Linked DNA regions of Homo sapiens: region 2 is linked to region 1. Evidence: fine-mapped expression QTL. A gene starts in region 1. The other region holds a variant in brackets. All regions are shown on one strand. Distances are between the middles of the regions. Region 1 holds the start of STARD3 (StAR related lipid transfer domain containing 3). Region 2 overlaps STARD3 (StAR related lipid transfer domain containing 3).

The links. PIP is the estimated chance that this variant, and not a neighbour inherited with it, causes the effect.
Region 2: its variant is the best candidate, but not a certain one, in a credible set for the expression of STARD3 in whole blood (TOPMed, PIP 0.52).

The regions. Positions count from the first base shown.
Region 1 is chr17:39,633,877-39,639,384 of GRCh38, forward strand. It overlaps STARD3 (StAR related lipid transfer domain containing 3), which reads left to right and starts at 3,268. Exons shown (of 15, transcript NM_006804.4): 1 at 3,268-3,355. It overlaps PPP1R1B (protein phosphatase 1 regulatory inhibitor subunit 1B), which reads left to right. Exons shown (of 7, transcript NM_032192.4): 5 at 7-210; 6 at 1,731-1,850; 7 at 1,940-2,748. The coding sequence ends at 1,989. LOC124903998 (a long non-coding RNA gene) reads right to left here and starts at 3,414. Exons shown (of 2, transcript XR_007065749.1): 1 at 3,115-3,414; 2 at 762-1,150. RefSeq lists enhancers at 1,413-2,036, 3,820-3,939 and a silencer at 3,210-3,279.
Region 2 is chr17:39,655,271-39,660,270 of GRCh38, forward strand. STARD3 (StAR related lipid transfer domain containing 3) reads left to right here. Exons shown (of 15, transcript NM_006804.4): 3 at 1,738-1,815; 4 at 2,505-2,582; 5 at 2,703-2,756; 6 at 3,135-3,252; 7 at 3,452-3,550; 8 at 3,781-3,836; 9 at 4,191-4,283; 10 at 4,941-5,000. Among named protein-coding and RNA genes, the nearest start is that of TCAP, 7.6 kb to the right of the region's middle. RefSeq lists an enhancer at 2,946-3,821. The variant C/T (reference allele first, on the strand shown) is at 2,777.

The DNA.
Region 1 (5,508 bases):
TGCCAGCTGTGCAGCGCATTGCTGAGTCTCACCTGCAGTCTATCAGCAATTTGAATGAGAACCAGGCCTCAGAGGAGGAGGATGAGCTGGGGGAGCTTCGGGAGCTGGGTTATCCAAGAGAGGAAGATGAGGAGGAAGAGGAGGATGATGAAGAAGAGGAAGAAGAAGAGGACAGCCAGGCTGAAGTCCTGAAGGTCATCAGGCAGTCTGGTAAGCTGAGGGGCCTGTGACATGTGGATTAGCTGTGGGTCCTCCTTGAGTATACGAGGACGTCCCCTTCTAGTTCAGTGTCTCATACACGCAAACTGTAGTGACACCACAGGGGCCTCCCTGTCTTCTCGCTCCATGGGGTGCCCCGAACTCAGCCCTACCTGAGACATGGGTTTCCTCCATCCTTGGCTCAGTCCCTCTCCCAATCAGGTTTTCCCTAATAATTCCTCTCTTCCCTGAGAATTAAGGCCAAGGCCGTTTGGGGTTTGAGGCTAGAGCCAAAAGAGGACTTCCCACCTATGGCAGTAAGGGGGCGTGAGGACATTCAGGGATGGAGGACCAGGAGAGTCCAACACCCCTGTCACCTGCATTTCACCTACATTTTTGAACCTAGGATGTGGTCTCTGCTGGGGTGCAGAGGGCTGCCTCATTTACTTGCCCTCTCCAGGACTGTTGTCTGTTTCTCCTCTTTTTCCTTCCTAGGATGGAGTGGGAGGGTGCCCTCTAGTGTTTAGATGTAGAATTTAAAATTCAAGAACCAGCCCGGCCCATTAACCTTTTTAGTCTCATTATTTATGGGAATACTGAAGAGTCAACCACCCCTACTAGAAGCTGTCAGCTCTTCCACACAAACAAAAGGCCTTGGGCCTCCTGCCTGCATATCTGGCAGTGAAGAGATTGGCCATGGGGGCAAAAGCTGTTGCTGGGCTTCAGTCCCTTTGTGGGCAAGAGACAGCTGGAAGACCTGAATCAGTCCTCACTGAGACCCCTCCAAAACAGTGGAAGAGGGGTGAGAGGAGACTGTTCCCTCAGGAAAAGCAGCAGGTGGCTGGGTGCGGTGGCTCATGCCTGTAATTCCAGCACTTTGGGATGCCAAGGCTAGCGGATCACTTGAGGTCTGGAGTTCAAGACCAGTCCAGCCAACATGGTGAAACCCCATCTGTAATAAAAATACAAAAATTAGCCAGGCACAGTGGCACACACCTGTAATCCCAGCTGCTTGGGAGGCTGAGGCAGAAGAATCCCCTGAACCTGGGAGGTGGAAGTTGCAGTGAGCTGAGATCGCACCACTGCACTCCAGCCTGGGCAACAGAGTGAGACTCCATCTCAAAAACAAAAACAAAAAACCAAAACAAAACAACAAAAAAAAACAAACAAACAAAAAATGCAGAAGGGCACCGGGTCAAATGATAGTCCTATGATGGAGCAATATAAACCACCACGACTCCTAGTGGCTCCTGGGTGCTGGCGCTGGGCTGGGCAGGGTATTCACTATTACATCTTGTTTAAGGTAATCTACACAATTTCCCCCTTTCTATTTCCTTCAGAAAGGTACTAACTGACTTACGTAAGCCATATGGCTAGTTGCTGGGAGAGCTGTTCTAGCCCAGTTCTCTCTCCATGCTTCCATGATGCCCCTGGAAAGCTTAACCTCAGCCATCAGACACTTAGCTCACACTCCAGGACAGCCGGATGGATACGCAGAGCCTGTGTTCTTATCTCTTCTTTCCCATCCCCAGCTGGGCAAAAGACAACCTGTGGCCAGGGTCTGGAAGGGCCCTGGGAGCGCCCACCCCCTCTGGATGAGTCCGAGAGAGATGGAGGCTCTGAGGACCAAGTGGAAGACCCAGCACTAAGTGGTAAGGCTTGGGAGTGTGAAATGGGGAGGAGGGGCTGGGATCTTGGTGGGTGGGGCCAGGCCCTGAGTCCCTCTCTGCTTGCCTTTCAGAGCCTGGGGAGGAACCTCAGCGCCCTTCCCCCTCTGAGCCTGGCACATAGGCACCCAGCCTGCATCTCCCAGGAGGAAGTGGAGGGGACATCGCTGTTCCCCAGAAACCCACTCTATCCTCACCCTGTTTTGTGCTCTTCCCCTCGCCTGCTAGGGCTGCGGCTTCTGACTTCTAGAAGACTAAGGCTGGTCTGTGTTTGCTTGTTTGCCCACCTTTGGCTGATACCCAGAGAACCTGGGCACTTGCTGCCTGATGCCCACCCCTGCCAGTCATTCCTCCATTCACCCAGCGGGAGGTGGGATGTGAGACAGCCCACATTGGAAAATCCAGAAAACCGGGAACAGGGATTTGCCCTTCACAATTCTACTCCCCAGATCCTCTCCCCTGGACACAGGAGACCCACAGGGCAGGACCCTAAGATCTGGGGAAAGGAGGTCCTGAGAACCTTGAGGTACCCTTAGATCCTTTTCTACCCACTTTCCTATGGAGGATTCCAAGTCACCACTTCTCTCACCGGCTTCTACCAGGGTCCAGGACTAAGGCGTTTTTCTCCATAGCCTCAACATTTTGGGAATCTTCCCTTAATCACCCTTGCTCCTCCTGGGTGCCTGGAAGATGGACTGGCAGAGACCTCTTTGTTGCGTTTTGTGCTTTGATGCCAGGAATGCCGCCTAGTTTATGTCCCCGGTGGGGCACACAGCGGGGGGCGCCAGGTTTTCCTTGTCCCCCAGCTGCTCTGCCCCTTTCCCCTTCTTCCCTGACTCCAGGCCTGAACCCCTCCCGTGCTGTAATAAATCTTTGTAAATAACTGCTGAGACTCCTCTTTCAGGGGAAGCAGGAGGAAAAGGGAGGTAATGGGGCGTCCTGATAGGGAAGGCCGGTGGTCAACCAAGGGTTAGGGTTTTGACCCTACTGTCCAATCCTCTAGTCTAGGAGTCTTTCTGGCAGACAGCAGGCTCGGGGCACTCAGAGGAAGAACTACAGAAGTTCTAGCTGCTGCTTGGGATGGCTGAAGGAGGCAGGTGGGGTGGGGAAGTCCTTCTCGAATAACTGGATTCCTCCAAAGATTTCCCCATCCCCACAGGACTCCCCTCGGGAAATTCCCCTTTTTCCCTCAGTGCCAGGCCTGTGTGGCCTAATAACGACGGCCCTGGTCTTCTTCCCACTCCCCTACCCTTAGGTAGGCCCTTAGACTCCGGCCTTTGAGTCCGCTTCTGCGCAGGGCCGGGGCTGGAGGCGGGGCGAAGGGGCGGGGCCGCAGGCGAACGCAAGTCCCGCTTCGCTCTCGGGGGCGGACTCAGCGGCGGAAGTGGCGCTGCCGGAAGATCTTCTTCCGCTCTGAGGCGCTACTGAGGCCGCGGAGCCGGACTGCGGTTGGGGCGGGAAGAGCCGGGGCCGTGGCTGACATGGAGCAGGTGGGTCCCGGAGCGGTCGCTGGGAGCGGGTGGCGTGCGAGGGCCGTCTTCCGCCGGTCGAACCCGCTTCGCCGCCCGCTGTCCGTGCTGGGTTCCGTCCGACCCTTCCCACACCCGCTGCGTCTCAGGTTCCGCCCCCTTCCTCTGTCTGGCCTCGCGCCGCCCCGCGCGGGTTGGGGTCTCCAGCAATGACTCTTGGCGACCCCGCCTATCCTGGGGAGCCCGGGGAGGACGTTCGGGATCTCCTTCCAAAGCCTCCGTCTTAACTGAGGGGAGAGGAGAGGGTGAGGTGTCTGGGTGTTATGAGCAGGGGCAGGTATGGGGAGGGGTCGGAATCTGGGGTGAGAGGAAAACATCTACGCATTCCGGTAGCTCTGCGTCTCAGTGTCATCCCGTGTCTCCCCAACTTCCTTTCGAAACGGCCGTGAATAACTTCCTAATTGGTATTAAAAGGGCCCTTTGAAGTCTTGAGTTCTTAGAGGTGCATAGTACCATTGACACTCATTTCTAATGACACGTTCCCTCACCCCGCATTTTTGGGTTAGTCAATGTCTCCTGGTTTTCTTCGTACCGCTCTGACAGTCGGTCAAAGTCCCGCTTCACGTTTTCCTCTGTCGCCCAACCCCTCGCTCTGTACACTGAATCTCAGTGGTCTTATTTTCCCCCACGGCTTCAGCTTTACACCAACTAAATACCCAGATCCACATCTTCAGCGCAGCCCTTCCCTGGAGCTCCACGCTTGCCCATCCAGCGGCCATTGGGACAGCTCTGCTTCACATGGAGCTCACTGGGTCCAAACTTGAACTGGTCTTTTCCTTGCAGATTAATTCTTCCTCTACCCCAACCCAGCCGGAAGTCTGGTAATTTCCTTACACTTTCTCCTCTCTTTCAAGTCCCACATCTTAAAAGTGACCTAGTACTGCCAACTTCCTGAACATCCTTCAAACCTGGGCCAGCTCCATCTCTTCTGTTACCACGCTGTTGATGTATTGTCAATTCCCAACAGTCCAGCCCTGGCAGCTTGCAACCCAGTCTCCAAACTGTAACTCTTGTGATCCTTTTAGAACACAAGTCTTACGGTGCCAGTTCCTTGCTGATAACCTTTTTCTGGCTTTCTATTGCCTATGTGCTGAACCCCTAGCACAATTTACACAGCTCTCTGTGATCTGACCTAGCAGTCTCCTGTGTGCACCCTAAGGTCCAATAATACGGCACTGCAGCATGCGCCATGCCTACCCTTGCTGTTCGTATCTTCATGACTTTGCACACACCAGCCCCCGCTGCTTGGAAACCTCCTCCTTCTCTTGTCTGCTGGGCTACCTTCTACATGTTTTTCAGCGCAGGCAGCGCTGCCTCCGCCTAACCCCCAAGGTTAATTGCCCTTCTGTGTCCTGTAGCACCCTGTCCATAATAGCATAGTAGCTGAGAATACAGACTCCTGGATCAGACTGCCTGGGTTCTGACCTGTTTGGTAACCTTGATGAAGTCAGTGCCTCAATTTCCTCACTTGTAAAATGGAGGTAGGAATGTCTCTACTTCATAGAGTTGTGAGGATTGAATGGAATATTGTATGTTTAGGTCTTAAACCAGTGCTAGGCACAAGAATGCTCAATAAATTAAAGTGAGTTGCCTGGGTGCAGTGGCTCATGCATTAATCCTAGTACTTTGGGAGGCAAGGCAGGATGATCGCTTGAGGCCAGGGGTTTGCAACTAGCTTGGGCAACATAGTGAGACCCCATCGCTACAAAAATTTAAAAAACTAGCTGAGCATGGTGGTACGTGTGGGAGGATCCTTTGAGCCCAGGAATTTGAAGTTACAACGAGATATGGTTGTGCCACTGCACTCTAGTGTGAGGGACAGAGTGAGATCCTGTTTCTAAAATAAATAAATAAAAAGTTATTACTATTATGTAAGGACAACATAGTTCACCAGTTATGATTTTTAATTTCATAAGTTGCCTGAGGATGGTTGAAGTGGCTTACTAGTCATTGGATAGAGCCTGGCTCTTTGCCAATAAATAAAATGCTGGAGTGGAGGACACTGGGGGCAGGGTCTGGATTTATTGAGTGAAGATTCAAGAGTGAAAAAGGCTCAGACCTGGTCTGCTCAGGAAAACCAGTCTGGAAGTGTGTGTGTGTTACATGGCAAGCAT
Region 2 (5,000 bases), 21 kb after region 1:
CAACTCCTAGATTCAAGGGTTCCTCCCACCTCAGCCTCCCCAGTAGCTGGGACCACAGGTGCATGACCACATTTGGCTATTTTTTTTTTTTTTGGTAGAGATGGAGTCTCACTATGTTGCCCAGGCTGGTCTCAAACTCCTGGGCTCAAGTGATCCTCCCATCTCGGCCTCTCACAGTGCTGGGATTAGAGGCATGAGCCACTGTGCCTGGCCTCTGTAATTGTGCTTTTGAAGTTATTTGGCTGTGTTGGCTGCGATTGCTCTGCAGTCCTCATGCGTACCTGGGAATTCTTGCAAAGTGAGAAGATCTAACTTACTAATTGTTTTCAGATGTCATGAAACATTTCAGAATCCTGCACTGAACAATTAGTAGAGTCCACATGATGTTTCCCTTGGCAGACATTTAATTAAAATTGTATTGATTTTCAGTCTTGTAGTTTTACTTTTGTATTTGGGAGCATATATTTTTAGTTCGCTGACAGACTGTGTCTGTGTTGCCCAGTGGTTACAAGGACTCAGTAGGGTCGTGCTGAGCAGGGGGTTTGGAGCCAGAGAGTGGCAAAGCAGGGGCTGAGACTTGGCTCTCCCGAGTCCTGATCGGTCAGCACCGGTGGGTGCCCAGGCTGGAAAGAGGAAGGAGGACAGAGCTCTGAGGCCTAGTGACTGAGGGTGGAAGGGGCTGCAGAGCCCAGGGCAGAGTCTGAGGAGCAAGAGGAGTGCTGGGTGGTGTGGGTTGGGTGGGATGGGGTGGGTGGGTGGCAGGCCTGGGGGCCTCACCGGCAGCCAGAGGAGAGGTGGCATCAGATTTCATGGAGCTGGGGTGGGCTTGAGGAAGAGGCACATGGTGGGGCTGTGTGCTCAGTGGGGGAGCATCTGTATCTTTAACAAGCCCCCCCAGATTTGGCTGCCCTGCTGGAGAGCGGAAGCCCCAGTCTAGGCGGTTGTGAGGGGTCTTCCTCTCCAGGGCTCCTGGGCTCCATCGCCCAGAGTCCCTGTGTCCTCCCTTCTCCAGGGTGGCTGGTGCCCCACCTGAAGGAGCCTAGGCCCGTCACCCCCGTCATTCCAAGGAGTCAGGTCGCAGTCTGGCCTGGTGTCCATCCAGTTCCCTCAAACCTCTGGACATTGGAGTCAGGGCCAAGGCCTCAGGGGTCCTGGTGAAAATGTCTGGTGGGCTGGGGTAGGGACAGGGGCAAGGACACATCCACTCCGTCTCCACTTCACCCTCTCAAGCAGCGTGATGGATTTTGCCCATTAAGCATAAACCTAATCAATTGATTTGCCACCTGAGGCTCCGTCTGACACCACTGCCCACCCCCACCCCCCATCAGCCCAGATGGATTATGGCTGGGAAGATGGAGCACCGCAGTGCTGGGAGGGAGATGGGATTCTGTCAGAGGTGGGCTTTCGGCGCCCTTCTGCTGGCCCTGTATAGGGCGCATTGCCTCCCCTGCACAGCCCCGAAGCCTCCAAGCCTGCCCCTTCCTGGGCAGGGTGCTGGAAGCTAGCCCTGCCCATCGGGGCGGCCTGGATCCTTAGAGGACTGGTATTGGTGCCTGAGGTCTCTGGCCGTGGGCTGAGATCCCTTGGTGCTTCCAGGGCCCCCTGGGTGGTGGCTTAGCATCAACAGCCTCCCCTCCAGGTTCCTCCATCCCCTACCTCTTGCCCCTTCCGGGAGGTGAGGGGCAGCCCCAGGCCCTTGCTTCTACCTGCAGAGCTCTTCCTGTCTCCCTCTCACAGACCAACACAGGCATCCGTAAGAACTTGGAGCAGGAGATCATCCAGTACAACTTTAAAACTTCCTTCTTCGACATCTTTGTGAGTGGCCTTGGCTGATCCTGGGGACCCCGGAGGCAGAGAGGGAGCAGGGAAATGACTTCTGCTGGGTTCTCTTTTGGCAGCATATATCCAGTCTGATCAGAGACTCGGCTCCCATCCTTCGGGAGCCATCAGTCATTAAAACCTTTGCTCCACAAGGCTGGGCGCAGTGGCTCACGCCTGTAATCCTAGCACCTTGGGAGGCTGAGGTGGGTGGATCACTTGAGGTTAGGAGTTCGAAACCAGCTTGGCCATCATGGTGAAACCCCGCCTCTACTAAAAATACAAAAAATTAGCTGAGCATGGTGGTTCGCACCCATAATCCCAGCTACTTGGGAGGCTGAGGCAGGAGAATCACTTGAACCTGGGAGGCGGAGGTTGCAGTGAGCTGAGACCGTGCCACCGCACTCCAGCCTGGGCGACAGAGCGAGACTCTGTCTCAAAAAAAAAAAAAAACCTTTCCTCCACAAAGCCCCCTTCAGAGAGCCCCAGGTGGGAGAGGGAAGATAAGACCCCTGTGCAAGGTTACATCCAAATTGTCCCAGAGACATGCTGACTCAGTCGTTGTCCCCTGAGGTGTGCATGCCCATAGGAAGGGAACGTGGGGGCAGGACCAGAGGGGAGGTCAGCCTGCAGCAGGGTGGGGGGCAGTAGCTTCCTGTGACTGCCTTGCTCCCGTCCCCCACCAGGTCCTGGCCTTCTTCCGCTTCTCTGGACTGCTCCTAGGCTATGCCGTGCTGCGGCTCCGGCACTGGTGGGTGATTGCGGTAAGATGCCACTTTCCTGGCAGCTTCTGGGCCCTGGCAGGGCTGGTGGAAGGGATGGGATGGAGGAGGACTCACTTCCCAGCCTCTGCCTTCCCCTTCCTCCCTCCCTCCCCTGGGCAGGTCACGACGCTGGTGTCCAGTGCATTCCTCATTGTCAAGGTCATCCTCTCTGAGGTCAGTGGCTCAGGGTCTGG[C/T]CAGTCTGGTGGGCATCAGACCTGAGTGGTATGCTTCTAGAGAGGAGCATTTCTCTAATTTGGGGTGTCTGTCCCTGTTGTCCGGGTTAGGGGGAGAGGGAATCCTGTCCTTTGGTATCTATAAGGAATCATCCTTCACCCGCTTCCCTGACTTAGCCCCTTGCAGCTCTAGGAATCAGAAGGTTCTTTCTCCAGCCTAACCCCAGTTTATCCTGCTGCAGACTTGAGAGGGTTCCCAAGCAGCTGCTACCAGGAATGGGGTGTATGCCAGTTTGGCTGGCTAGAGTTGGTAGCCACAGAAGGGGGCTCTGGGTTTGGGGTGACCCCTGCCATGGAGCTCAGCCCCCTCCCTTCACAGCTGCTCAGCAAAGGGGCATTTGGCTACCTGCTCCCCATCGTCTCTTTTGTCCTCGCCTGGTTGGAGACCTGGTTCCTTGACTTCAAAGTCCTACCCCAGGAAGCTGAAGAGGAGCGATGTGAGTGCTTGCGGGTAGGGGGGTGCAGCGAGGGTTACCCACAGCCCCAAGAGAGGGGAGTTGCGGGCATGAGAGTCAGTCTGAAGCATCTCGCCACCTCTGAGCAGCCTCCAGTAGCCTGAGGGGGAGCTTGGGTGGGGGTACCCCAGGCTGCTAGGGTGTAACTGTCCTCGGTCCGGGACCGAGTCTGCTCCTCCAGGGTATCTTGCCGCCCAGGTTGCTGTTGCCCGTGGACCCCTGCTGTTCTCCGGTGCTCTGTCCGAGGGACAGTTCTATTCACCCCCAGAATCCTTTGCAGGTGAGGGCTGGTGTGTGGGGGAACTGCTTTCAGGGAGGGGCCTTGTGAGGAATGGGGTAGGCTGGGTCTGTTCTTTCTATTCCTTCTATCAGGCTCCCTGGGGAAAGCCAGCAACCCTCTCCCACACACTTTTATCCCCCACATCCTTGCACTCACATACCCGAACCCCACTACCTCCCCACACTCTCTCCCCACCCCTTGCCATTGTCATCTGTGCCTGTTTTCTGCAGGGTCTGACAATGAATCAGATGAAGAAGTTGCTGGGAAGAAAAGTTTCTCTGCTCAGGTATTTGCCTGCCTACCCCTAACCCCTGCCCTTGGAATGGGTGCCTGGAGGAGGGCGGGTGCAGGGGTCAGCCGGGGTGGGCAGGGGTTTCCCAGTAGAGGCTGAACCTCGGGCAATGCCCATCCGAGTGTCTCCCCCACCACCAGTCCGGCCCCCCTGGTCTGCCTCATGCCTGGGCACACAGGTGGAGCAGCCACAAGCCTGCAGGGCCCAGGGAGACCAGCCCAGATCCCACATGTGGCTGGGCCAGGCCCCTCTGGGAAGCATGTGGTATGTCTAGAGAGAGAACAGGCCACGAACATGGTGGACTGCAGGCCCCAGGCTGACCCCTCCCTGCCTCCTGCTTCCGTCCAGGAGCGGGAGTACATCCGCCAGGGGAAGGAGGCCACGGCAGTGGTGGACCAGATCTTGGCCCAGGAAGAGAACTGGAAGTTTGAGAAGAATAATGTAAGAAGCCCTCTCCCACCTGACCTTCCCATGCGTGTTAGGAGTTTCTGTTCTCTTTTCTGAGGCCTGAGGAAGAAACCCAAAGATTACATGGGTTGGAGCCATATTCCTGCCCCAAGAGAGGGAGCTGGGCCCTCGGGTCGGCAGGAGGCTGGGCTGGATTGGACGTTTCCCCCGTGCCCCTTGGCCCCCCTTCCCCGCACCCCCCATGTTTACTTCCCTGCTGTTCTGCCCCCTTGGCTCCAGGCTTTGAAGGGGAAGCCAGGCTTCTGCTCTGCATCCGTTGTTTCGTTTCATGATCAAAACAACATTATCTACAAAGATCGTAGAGAGCTTGGAAAACAGAGAGCAACATGCCCCAGTCCCTCTCTCTGGCCAGTTCTTGTGGCAGCCCCATTGGCCTGGAGACATGGTTTTTTGTGGTTGCAGCTGCAGCTGTCCCCCCGTCTTTTAACTCGACATCAAAAGCCTCTCTCCTGCCAGTGCCATAGGTTTGTTAGAGCTACTGTTTTGTAACAGCTGCTCAGGTGTCCCCAAACTCCTGGAGTTTTCCACCCTGAGCTGTTAAAAACCTGCCCTGCCTGTCACCCATTTCTGTGCCACCAGCCCACCCCCTGCCTCCACTCTCCTCCCTGCCACCTTCTGTCCCTGCCATAGGAATATGGGGACACCGTGTACACCATTGAAGTTCCCTTTCACGGCAAGACGTTTATCCTG